Linked DNA regions of Homo sapiens. The protein of the gene in region 1 purifies or fractionates together with the protein of each later gene. This does not show direct contact. Each region holds a gene or a part of one and is shown on either strand. Other genes may lie near its edges.

Evidence for each region. The genes of interacting proteins can lie anywhere in the genome.
Region 2: the proteins of LRP1B (region 1) and FGB purify together in Homo sapiens (affinity purification with mass spectrometry, with the first as the bait; one study listed by BioGRID). This does not show direct contact.
Region 3: the proteins of LRP1B (region 1) and SH2D1A purify together in Homo sapiens (affinity purification with mass spectrometry, with the first as the bait; one study listed by BioGRID). This does not show direct contact.

The regions. Positions count from the first base shown.
Region 1 is NC_000002.12:140,233,380-140,238,863, reverse strand, and holds part of LRP1B (low-density lipoprotein receptor-related protein 1B precursor), read left to right. Parts: intron 1-567; coding exon 568-712; intron 713-3,979; coding exon 3,980-4,078; intron 4,079-5,484. UniProt on the Homo sapiens protein: Potential cell surface proteins that bind and internalize ligands in the process of receptor-mediated endocytosis.
Region 2 is NC_000004.12:154,566,011-154,569,510, forward strand, and holds part of FGB (fibrinogen beta chain isoform 1 preproprotein), read left to right. Parts: intron 1-478; coding exon 479-662; intron 663-1,582; coding exon 1,583-1,810; intron 1,811-2,370; coding exon 2,371-2,484; intron 2,485-3,171; coding exon 3,172-3,297; intron 3,298-3,500. UniProt on the Homo sapiens protein: Cleaved by the protease thrombin to yield monomers which, together with fibrinogen alpha (FGA) and fibrinogen gamma (FGG), polymerize to form an insoluble fibrin matrix. Fibrin has a major function in hemostasis as one of the primary components of blood clots.
Region 3 is NC_000023.11:124,349,563-124,353,062, forward strand, and holds part of SH2D1A (SH2 domain-containing protein 1A), read left to right. Parts: intron 1-3,500.

The DNA of each region.
Region 1 (5,484 bases):
AACTATTGGAGATTTAGAAGGGCGGGAAATGAAAGTGGGGTGGTTGATGAGAAATTACCTAATGGGTACAGCGTACATTATTTGGGTGATGGACATACTAAAAGCCCAGGCTTCAACACTATGCAATATAACCACGTAACAAACTTGCACTTGTACAAAATAAGCTTAAAAACCAAGAGCTTTTGAGTCAGTATTTGACTTATGTAAAACAGGATTCTAACCATGTAACTTGGGGATTGAAAACAATCTTAGAGTTTATCACTATTTTGTTGTGATAGTTTTCAGAAAGGAGAAAAAATAGAATTTAAAAAGATTGGTAAATATTCAATTTCAAATGATGTCATTTCGGCTATTTAGGAGGTATTTATTTCCAGTGTGTTTTTATTAAGTCAAAACAACTGGGAAAACAGCCTATCAATGTACTACTTTTTGTTCCTCTGTTACTTGACAAATGTCATTTATTCAATTTATTTCAAAATAAGTCAGTAAATCTATAAATATAATTTCATATGCCTTGATTGTGATATTTATACAAAACTCACACATATTAATGTTTATATATTCTAGGACAAAAACAATTAGAAGACAACCTATTATCAATGGAGGAATAAATGTAGAAATTGGCAATCCATCTTATAACATGTATGAGGTAGATCATGATCACAACGATGGAGGTCTTTTAGATCCTGGCTTTATGATAGACCCAACAAAGGTAGTATGTCTTAAGATAATGGGCAGTGAGCACTAACATTCTTGAGTCGCATCTCTGTTTTATGGTTCTGAATTTCACCAAGTTTTTCTGTTATCTGAAGTTAGAATAAGGGACTTTAGGATGTATTGAATGATATAGCCTCTTCTAAAGAGAAAGTACAATTATGGACTGCATTCACCTGAAGCTGAGTGTAACACATCTTAGAAAACACATATTTATTTGCTCAGTTCTTTTATAAACATGTTTTTATATGTTTTTTATTGAAAAATGATTCATTATCTAATTTTGTTTACATAAAGCAAACGAAAAACTCATTTAAAAATTGTTTTAGTATTGATATCACACAGCAAATTGTTTAGGTCTTCTTCAGGGGATAGATAGATATATAGATAGATAAAGGTCTATTATAAAGTAAAGCTACTGACTTTCAATGTTGAAATATATGCAAGGAGAAGACCAATACATGCACAGCTTCTAGAAATATGGCTGAAAAGTAGTTTGGTGAGACATTTTCTTTTCTACCCACTTCCTCCCAGTATTCCTTACAGTGTGGTTCTATGGGGTTTTGGTTTGGTAGGAACTGGATACTTACAAGATAGTTTTGTTTTCATCACTTCAGACATGGAATCCTTCTTTTAATGTTTTTTGTTTTAATTGATACATAATAAGTAGGAAATCAGTACATTGAAGAGATATCTGTACTTCCATGATTTTTACAGCATTATTCACAATAGCCAAGATATAGAATCAACCTAAGTGTGCATCAACAATGAATAAAGAAAATGCTATTCAGCCATAAAAAAGAAGGAAATCCTGTCATTTGAGGCAACATGGATAAAGCTGGATGATATTGTCATATATGAAATAATCCAGGCACAGAATGACAAATACCACATGATCTCACTCACATGTGAATCTATAGAAGTTAATATTGAAGTAGAGAGTAGAATAGTGGTTACTAGAGGGTGGAGAGGGGAGGAGGAAGGAAAATAGGTGTTGTTCAATGGGTACAAAGTCACAGTCAGATAAGAGGAATGGGTTTTGGTGTTCTGTTGCACAGTTAGGTGATGGTGGTTAACAATATTGTATTGTATATTTAAAAATAGCTAGAAAAGGATTTTTAATGTTCTCGCCACAAAAAAATAACTATGTATGAGGTGATAGATATGCTAAATACTTTGATTTTTTCTGCAATGTATACATGTATAAAAACATAACAAAACACAGTATCTCATAAATATGTATAATTCATGTAAAATAATGCTCTAATCAAATGTGTTGAGGTATTAGCAAATCTAGATACACAGCTTAGTGTAAAAATCTTGGTCAGTGTATTTTTTAAATATAAAAGAGTACAGTACTTTATTATCAAAATAAGTATGTTGTTTCCAATAATGTTTAAATGATGAGCCAGATAAGCTGTGTCCTTGGACTTCTTTGTAATTAAATCACTTTTGAGAAATATTTTTCTATCTGTCATAATATCCTTACTAGTTTAAAACATTTCATTGATACATATAGCCTGACAATCCACAGCCTTTTAAATTTAAAAATATTTGTTAGTTTTTATTACTATAAGCTGAGGTTGGCAACTTTTAAGGGAAATAGCTAAATGATACAATTATCCAGTTAAAGTTGTGAAGATTTACTTCAGTGAATTATCTGAATATTCTTTCTGATAATTTTAGAATATTTTTTCTCTAAATTAAGAGTATCAATTTAGTATTATGAAACAATTTTTCTTGGTTTATTCACTTATTTATTGAATAGTTATTTATTTTTCTGACTTACAAAAGTTACTTCATCAAAATGCACTTTTACATTGTAAATATCCAATGTGGCCAATCTACATTCAAATTATTTTGCAATCACAGTCATTGGTGTTCCTGAAGAATCTGAATAGGATCCCACATATTCAGTCTAGTTCTGAACCCATGATTAGGCTTTCTAAGCCTAAAATTGATGCTCAACTATTCACTTCTATGAAAATCAATCTTTTCACATGGATACATTGTGTACTATCAGAGAATATTATATTTTTCTAATTAGACATAATTTTATAGTTATTAAAATTCACTCCTACATCTGAAATTTTTCAAGGAAAAAGTCTTGGTAACCTTACATTTGATATTTTCTGCTTTAAAATATCACAGAAGTGGAGACATGATACATATTTTACACATTGCTATTGATAATCTATTATATCTATGAAGGAGAAAGACAAATAATAGAGTTCTGAAATTCTTTGCATTTTTCTTAGGAATAAAAATATAGTATTCATACATATAACAGACTAATGACGATATACTTTACACATTTTTCATATGAAGGAGGGTTATTTTTTCCTCATCATTTTTATTTCTAGTGATAGAATTAATCCAATTTTGTACACTTAAAGAGAATAGCTTTTTACACATTCAAAAATTTTCACATTTACTCTAGGAAGATAAAACTATGTTTCAGTGCCCCCAAATATATTTTAATGTACTTAGAACATAATACTCAAATATTTACCAATTGGATGACTGAATAACCAAAATTGCATCAAATATGACTTAGATGACTGATTCTATCTGGATCCTGATATTTGAATATAAATGTGAATTGTTGTCAAATGAGTAACTACAGAAAAAAACAGCTAGTTCTAATAGGTTTAGACAGTAGTGAGAAACAAAGGGCCATATTGAAGCAACCTTAATAATCATATGAATTTTATAGAGCATTCACTTTGTTACAAGCGTTTGATATATGCATGGTGCAATCAGTATAAATTACATTACATGTGAAGAAAAATTTTGTAGAACACTCATTTCTGTTATTCTCAAAGAGGGTAAAATTTCTAGTTCAATGGTATCTTATAATCAAAAGGATTGAAAGTACTTAATGCAGTTAATAAAATTGATTTGACTATGGGGGTAACCACAGAACAGTTTGAAGAGTTTAAAAGAGATAAATATGTACTAGTTTTATCTTCAAATTCATGCCAATTCTTACTTGGACTATTCTTTATATTTTCTGAATAAGACTTTTGTGAGAGAAATGTCTACCTATGAAGCAAAGATCCAATATTAATATTGGATCTTTAATAATATTAATATTGGATATTTTAAGTTGTTTTAAGTTGTTAAAGCTAACATGAACACACTGTAAATGGTGTAAGGCTAAAGGGTATTTTTATGTTATTTTTATGAATTAACATGATATGTATCGATGAAAAGTGATTCTATAATATTAGATCAGAAACTAAAATTTTCTGTTTATATACAGGCCAGGTACATAGGGGGAGGACCCAGTGCTTTCAAGCTTCCACACACAGCGCCGCCCATCTACCTAAACTCTGATTTGAAAGGACCACTAACTGCTGGGGTGAGAGAAGAATATTCGTTATTTCATGTCCGTTTCATCACAGAACCCTCACAATCAAAGACTAATTACTAGACTTAGAGGCTTGTTTTTAATTAAGTTTTTAATTAACAAGAGATTTCAAAATAGCATTTAAATTGGGGGCTTATGTTATGTGTCCTGTCTATGCAAGATTACATCTAAAACATTATTTTAGGCAAGCCATTAAGTAGAAATATCTCTTCTACTGGATTTGGAAATGTTATTGTCCCTTTACAGTGAACATGAGTATTTGTTATTCTTAGCAAAGAAGCTCTAGCCAGAAATTAAAACTGAATAAACTTTTGATTTTATTCATTTCCTCTCATAGTGGTTTATTTAATATATACAAATTTGACGTGCAGTTAAATAGACTATACTTTAAAATGTGTCATCATATTGAGAAATTACAGACGGTCTAACAAAACCACTCTCAAAAACATGTTTCAATTAAGTAACTGGTGTTTAGAGAAAGCTGTTCTGTCTAAAGTTACATAGTTCATTTTAAGCAGAAGAGGAATAAAAATATGCATTATCAAGATTCCTAGGGATGAGAATTCTCTCCCTTATCGTCTTTCCCATCAACTGTTTTCATCCTCATTTTCTATCATGTTTGTCTCAATTGCATGGCTCAAAGATTATAATGTTTCCTTGTTGTAACTAAGATTTAATGTACTGTTTTTGGAAAGACGAAACAAAAAATAAGGAAAACAAACACTAGGCAAAATTTTCTTGGGATAAACTGCAATTTGTTAAATAGTGAACATTGTATGTATATGTTTTCCAACTCAAAGAGGTCAGCTGCTGCATGCCTCTAATTCTACTTCAAAATGCTATGTTTGTGAAACTTAAGATGACTGTGTACATCACAATTCTTTGAAAAAGTCCAAAAATATTTCTAATAAGTACACACAGGTTGTTTGAGGCAAAAATATTGCTTTAAAAATCTGATACACTAATGCATTTCTTTACATTTTTGTTTACTTGTTTTTAAGTTCATGTTGAAAAATTATAAGCACCAAACAAATGTTTTTCTGAAAACACATCTTACTTGCCACGGATAGGCTTGTAATAGCAATAAGGGGGACAACACAAAAACTGAAAACATGACAATTTAGTTTCACATTTTATGCTTTTATAATAAAGTCTCAGTGAACATAGCTTTTACAAAGATTTTTTTCTGGCTTTTTGTATATGGCAAAGCTCCTCTTAGGTTCACAAGTTACTTGCAAAATGTAAAATTATGTTTCATTTAATACCATGCTTGAGTTGAGTAAAGTCTGTAAATGTAACATGTAAATAACCTTTAAATCATTACTATTTAATAAATTAAATGTATTGCATATAAATATTGTTACGATTAGGAGATGGACATTCTAGGAAGTAAATAA
Region 2 (3,500 bases), on another chromosome or scaffold:
GATGTTTCTTGCAGTGGTGGCTCTCTCATGCAGAGAAAGCCTGTAGTCATGGCAGTCTGCTAATGTTTCACTGACCCACATTACCATCACTGTTATTTTGTTTGTTTATTTTGGAAATAAAATTCAAAACATAAACATATTGGGCCTTTGGTTTAGGCTTTCTTTCTTGTTTTCTTTGGTCTGGGCCCAAAATTTCAAATTAGGATATGTGGGTGCCACCTTTCCATTTGTATTTTGCCACTGCCTTTGTTTAGTTGGTAAAATTTTCATAGCCCAATTATATTTTTTCTGGGGTAAGTAATATTTTAAATCTCTATGAGAGTATGATGATGACTTTCGAATTTCTGGTCTTACAGAAAACCAAATAATAAATTTTTATGTTGGCTAATCGTATCGCTGAATTTTCCTATGTGCTATTTTAACAAATGTCCATGACCCAAATCCTTCATCTAATGCCTGCTATTTTCTTTGTTTTTAGGGGGTGTTGTGTCCTACAGGATGTCAGTTGCAAGAGGCTTTGCTACAACAGGAAAGGCCAATCAGAAATAGTGTTGATGAGTTAAATAACAATGTGGAAGCTGTTTCCCAGACCTCCTCTTCTTCCTTTCAGTACATGTATTTGCTGAAAGACCTGTGGCAAAAGAGGCAGAAGCAAGTAAAAGGTAGATATCCTTGTGCTTTCCATTCGATTTTCAGCTATAAAATTGGAACCGTTAGACTGCCACGAGAATGCATGGTTGTGAGAAGATTAACATTTCTGGGTTAGTGAATAGCATTCATACGCTTTTGGGCACCTTCCCCTGCAACTTGCCAGATAAGCACTATTCAGCTCTTATTCCCAGTCTGACATCAGCAAGTGTGATTTTCTATGAAAAATTCTACTATGACTCCTTATTTTAAGTATACAAGAAACTTGTGACTCAGAAGATAATATTTACAGAGTGGAAAAAAACCCCTAGCATTTATAGTTTTAACATTTGAGGTTTTGAATGAGAGAGTTATCCATAATATATTCAATTGTGTTGTGGATAATGACACCTAACCTGTGAATCTTGAGGTCAGAATGTTGAGTGCTGTTGACTTGGTGGTCAGGAAACAGCTAGTGCGTGAGCCTGGCACAGGCATCTCAGTGAGTAGCATACCCACAGTTGGAAATTTTTCAAAGAAATCAAAGGAATCATGACATCTTATAAATTTCAAGGTTCTGCTATACTTATGTGAAATGGATAAATAAATCAAGCATATCCACTCTGTAAGATTGAACTTCTCAGATGGAAGACCCCAATACTGCTTTCTCCTCTTTTCCCTCACCAAAGAAATAAACAACCTATTTCATTTATTACTGGACACAATCTTTAGCGTATACCTATGGTAAATTACTAGTATGGTGGTTAGGATTTATGTTAATTTGTATATGTCATGCGCCAAATCATTTCCACTAAATATGACTATATATCATAACTGCTTGGTGATAGCTCAGTGTTTAATAGTTTATTCTCAGAAAATCAAAATTGTATAGTTAAATACATTAGTTTTATGAGGCAAAAATGCTAACTATTTCTACATAATTTCATTTTTCCAGATAATGAAAATGTAGTCAATGAGTACTCCTCAGAACTGGAAAAGCACCAATTATATATAGATGAGACTGTGAATAGCAATATCCCAACTAACCTTCGTGTGCTTCGTTCAATCCTGGAAAACCTGAGAAGCAAAATACAAAAGTTAGAATCTGATGTCTCAGCTCAAATGGAATATTGTCGCACCCCATGCACTGTCAGTTGCAATATTCCTGTGGTGTCTGGCAAAGGTAACTGATTCATAAACATATTTTTAGAGAGTTCCAGAAGAACTCACACACCAAAAATAAGAGAACAACAACAACAACAAAAATGCTAAGTGGATTTTCCCAACAGATCATAATGACATTACAGTACATCATAAAAATATCCTTAGCCAGTTGTGTTTTGGACTGGCCTGGTGCATTTGCTGGTTTTGATGAGCAGGATGGGGCACAGGTAGTCCCAGGGGTGGCTGATGTGTGCATCTGCGTACTGGCTTGAACAGATGGCAGAACCACAGATAGATGTAGAAGTTTCTCCATTTTGTGTGTTCTGGGAGCTCATGGATATTCCAGGACACAAAAGGTGGAGAAGAGCTTTGTTCATCCTCTTAGCAGATAAACGTCCTCAAAACTGGGTTGGACTTACTAAAGTAAAATGAAAATCTAATATTTGTTATATTATTTTCAAAGGTCTATAATAACACACTCCTTAGTAACTTATGTAATGTTATTTTAAAGAATTGGTGACTAAATACAAAGTAATTATGTCATAAACCCCTGAACATAATGTTGTCTTACATTTGCAGAATGTGAGGAAATTATCAGGAAAGGAGGTGAAACATCTGAAATGTATCTCATTCAACCTGACAGTTCTGTCAAACCGTATAGAGTATACTGTGACATGAATACAGAAAATGGAGGTAAGCTTTCGACAGTTGTTGACCTGTTGATCTGTAATTATTTGGATACCGTAAAATGCCAGGAAACAAGGCCAGGTGTGGTGGCTCATACCTGTAATTCCAGCACCTTGGGAGGCCAAAGTGGGCTGATAGCTTGAGCCTAGGAGTTTGAAACTAGCCTGGGCAACATAATGAGACCCTAACTCTACAAAAAAAAAAAAAATACCAAAAAAAAAAAAAAATCAGCTGTGTTGGTAGTATGTGCCTGTAGTCCCAGCTATCCAGGAGGCTGAGATGGGAGATCACCTGAGCCCACAACCTGGAGTCTTGATCATGCTACTGAACTGTAGCCTGGGCAACAGAGGATAGTGAGATCCTGTCTCAAAAAAAAAAATTAATTAAAAAGCCAGGAAACAAGACTTAGCTCTAACATCTAACATAGCTGACAAAGAGTAATTTGATGTGGAATTCAACCTGATATTTAAAAAGTTATAAAATATCTATAATTCACAATTTGGGGTAAGATAAAGCACTTGCAGTTTCCAAAGATTTTACAAGTTTACCTCTCATATTTATTTCCTTATTGTGTCTATTTTAGAGCACCAAATATATACTAAATGGAATGGACAGGGGATTCAGATATTATTTTCAAAGTGACATTATTTGCTGTTGGTTAATATATGCTCTTTTTGTTTCTGTCAACCAAAGGATGGACAGTGATTCAGAACCGTCAAGACGGTAGTGTTGACTTTGGCAGGAAATGGGATCCATATAAACAGGGATTTGGAAATGTTGCAACCAACACAGATGGGAAGAATTACTGTGGCCTACCAGGTAACGAACAGGCATGCAAAATAAAATCATTCTATTTGAAATGGGATTTTTTTTAATTAAAAAACATTCATTGTTGGAAGCCTGTTTTAGGCAGTTAAGAGGAGTTTCCTGACAAAAATGTGGAAGCTAAAGATAAGGGAAGAAAGGCAGTTTTTAGTTTCCCAAAATTTTATTTTTGGTGAGATTTTATTTTGTTTTTCTTT
Region 3 (3,500 bases), on another chromosome or scaffold:
TACTCCTATTAACCAAGAAGATTTAATTGAGCTATAGTTTTTATATTTTTATTGTAGAGATAATACATTTCATATGCCTTCAAACTGTACTTTAAACTGTACTTTCAAACGATGCTTGCCCTTTTCCCCAGTTCTGAACCTCCTAATCATGGCTTTCAGATATGGCCTTTTCTTCTGTTCTGATTTAGAAAATCGAAAATTGAACTGCTTCATAAAGCACTAAAGGAGTTTTCCATTTATAGGATTGCTCACCTTCATTTTAAGTAATAAGTATTTCTTTCAATTACTTTCTCTAAATAAATATAGATTTTTGTATAAGTCTATTAAAAATAGTTCCTTATACCTATTCATTATAGAAAATTTGAAACATATAGATAATAGAAATTAGAGAAAAATCATCTATAGTTTTATAACCTAAAGATGACTATTGCTAAAAATTAGGTGAATTTTCTTCTATATTTTAATAAGATGAATTGCTTTTTGAGCACGTGTGCTCTTACAATTGTATTCTTACGAGTGACGTATTTGACTACTAAAAAGTTTGATTTTTGTATGCGTCAAAAAAAGTAAGGGCAAACACCAAATGTTATATATTTATATATATATAAATATCTAATATATATAATATATAAATATATAATATAAAATATATAATATATAAATATATATTATATAATATTATATAATATATAATATATAAATATATATTATATATAATATTATATAATATATAATATATAAATATATATTATATATAATATTATATAATATATAATATATAAATATATATTATATATAATATTATATAATATATAATATATAAATATATATTATATACTATATATAATATATAAATATATATTATATACTATATATAATATATAAATATATATTATATACTATATATAATATATAAATATATATTATATACTATATATAATATATAAATATATATTATATACTATATATAATATATAATATATACTATATTATATATAGTATATTATATACTATATTATATAGTATAATATAGAATATATTATATATTGTATATAAGATAATATATTATATATTGTATATAAGATATAATATATTATATATTGTATATAAGATATAATATATTATATATTGTATATAAGATAATATATTATATATTGTATATAAGATATAATATATTATATATTGTATATAAGATATAATATATTATATATTGTATATAAGATATAATATATTATATATTGTATATAAGATATAATATATTATATATTGTATATAAGATATAATATATTATATATTGTATATAAGATATAATATATTATATATTGTATATAAGATATAATATATTATATATTGTATATAAGATATATTATATATTGTATATAAGATATAATATATTATATATTGTATATAAGATATAATATATTATATATATATTATAAATATGTATATTTTTATATATTATTATAAATATATATATTTTATATATATTATTATAAATATATATTTTTATATATATTATTATAAATATATATTTATATATATTTATATATAAATTTACATGTGTTAAAAATATGATTGTGTTCTTGTATTCTTACAATTGTATACGTTTCCCATTTCCCACTTAATATGAAAAAAATACACTCATATGTAATGTTCTTAGAGACAACTTTAAGATGTTATTTTTAATGGCTGCATGGTAGTCCAGCTAGCTAGTAAGTATACCATATTTTGCTTAGCCAGTCACCTACTTTTAGACATTTGACTCATTCCATATTTTTGTTATTATAAATTCCATCAGGATGTATATTTCAGTACATTAAAGTTTCCTTGCATTTATGATTATTTCCTTAGAATGAATTTCCAGTGTGGAATTTCTAGGTCAGAAAACATAAACAGCTTAGGATTCTTGATATATACATGATCATGAGATATTTTCCCTAAATGGTTATTCCAATTTACATGCTCACCTGTAATGCATCAGTGTCCATTTCACCACACCCTCACTAGAAGTGGGTATTGTAGTTAAGAAAATTTTCCCTTGACATTTGGCCTGTTATTCTTTATTTTATATTTACACTCTATCTCTTTATTTTCCACATTTTATATTCCTTTGGTTAGTGACTGTCATTTTATATGGTTGTTAAGCTGTTGTATTTCCTCCCATGATTTGGCTTTTTGTGTATTTTTCTCATTTAACCAGTTGAATCATACTTTTTTTAAACACACTCTATGTGTATATATATATATGTGCACTAATCCTTGATCTATTGCAAGGTATCCTTTCGAAGTTTGGTGTTTGCCCTTACTTTTTTGACACATACAAAAATCAAACTTTTTTAACACATTGTAAATTTATATATATACTAATCCTTGATCTGTTGCAAGGTATGTTTTCTAAGTTTGGTGTTTGCCCTTACTTTTTTTGACACATACAAAAATCAAACTTTTTAGTAGTCAAATACGTCACTCGTTTTCTTTGTGTTTGATTTCTTCCTTGGCTAGAAAGTCCTTTCCCCTTGAGATATGTCATAAAACTTCACTGCAGTTTTTGTTTTAAATTACGGTTTTGTTAGTTTACATTTACCTCTTTAATTCCATTTGGAGTTGTATTTTGATGTGGATAAAAGATCTAATTTGATTTTGTTTCCAGATAGCTAGCAATTGTCCTAATATAATTTATAAATACAACTTCCATTCTTCATTGATTTGCTAGCCGACTTTACCATATATTAAATTCTTATATATAACAGTTACTGTTTCTGGACTATCTATTTGTCTCAATTGATCCATTTATTCTTGCACTGATAGCACTATAGTATGATAATGTTTTAATATATTTTAAAAATTATTTGCTATTCTTATCTGTTGGTTCTTCAAAATGAAATCTAGAATCATTTTATTAAGTTAAAAAAAATTCATTGGACCAAATGTTTTAGCTCTCACATGCCAGTGAGAACACATGATATTTGTCTTTCTGTGCCTGGCTTATTTCACTTCACATAATGACTTCCAGTTCTATTTACATTTCTGCAAATAACAGGATTTCATTCTTTTTAATGGCCAGATAGTATTCAATTGTATATGCATAGCACATTTTCTTTATCCATTCATCTGTTGCTGGACTCTTCTATATCTTGGCTACTGTAAATAGTACTGTGATAAATGTATGGGCGCAAGTATCCCTTTGATATATTGATTTCCTTTCCTTTTGATAGATACCCTGTAGTGGGATTCCTCAATCATATGGAGATAGAGAGTAAAATGATAGTTACCAGAGGTTGGGAAGGGTGGAAGGCGATGAAGAGAGGTTGGCTAATGGGTACAAACAGACAGTTAGATAGAAGAAATAGGTTCTAGTGTTCAGTCGCACAGTACGGTGACTATAGTTAACAATATCTTATGTATTTTGAAATAGCTAGAAGAGAGTACTTGAAATGTTCTTACATATAGAAATGATAAATGTTTGAGGTGATAAATATCCTAAATATTCAAATCCCCTG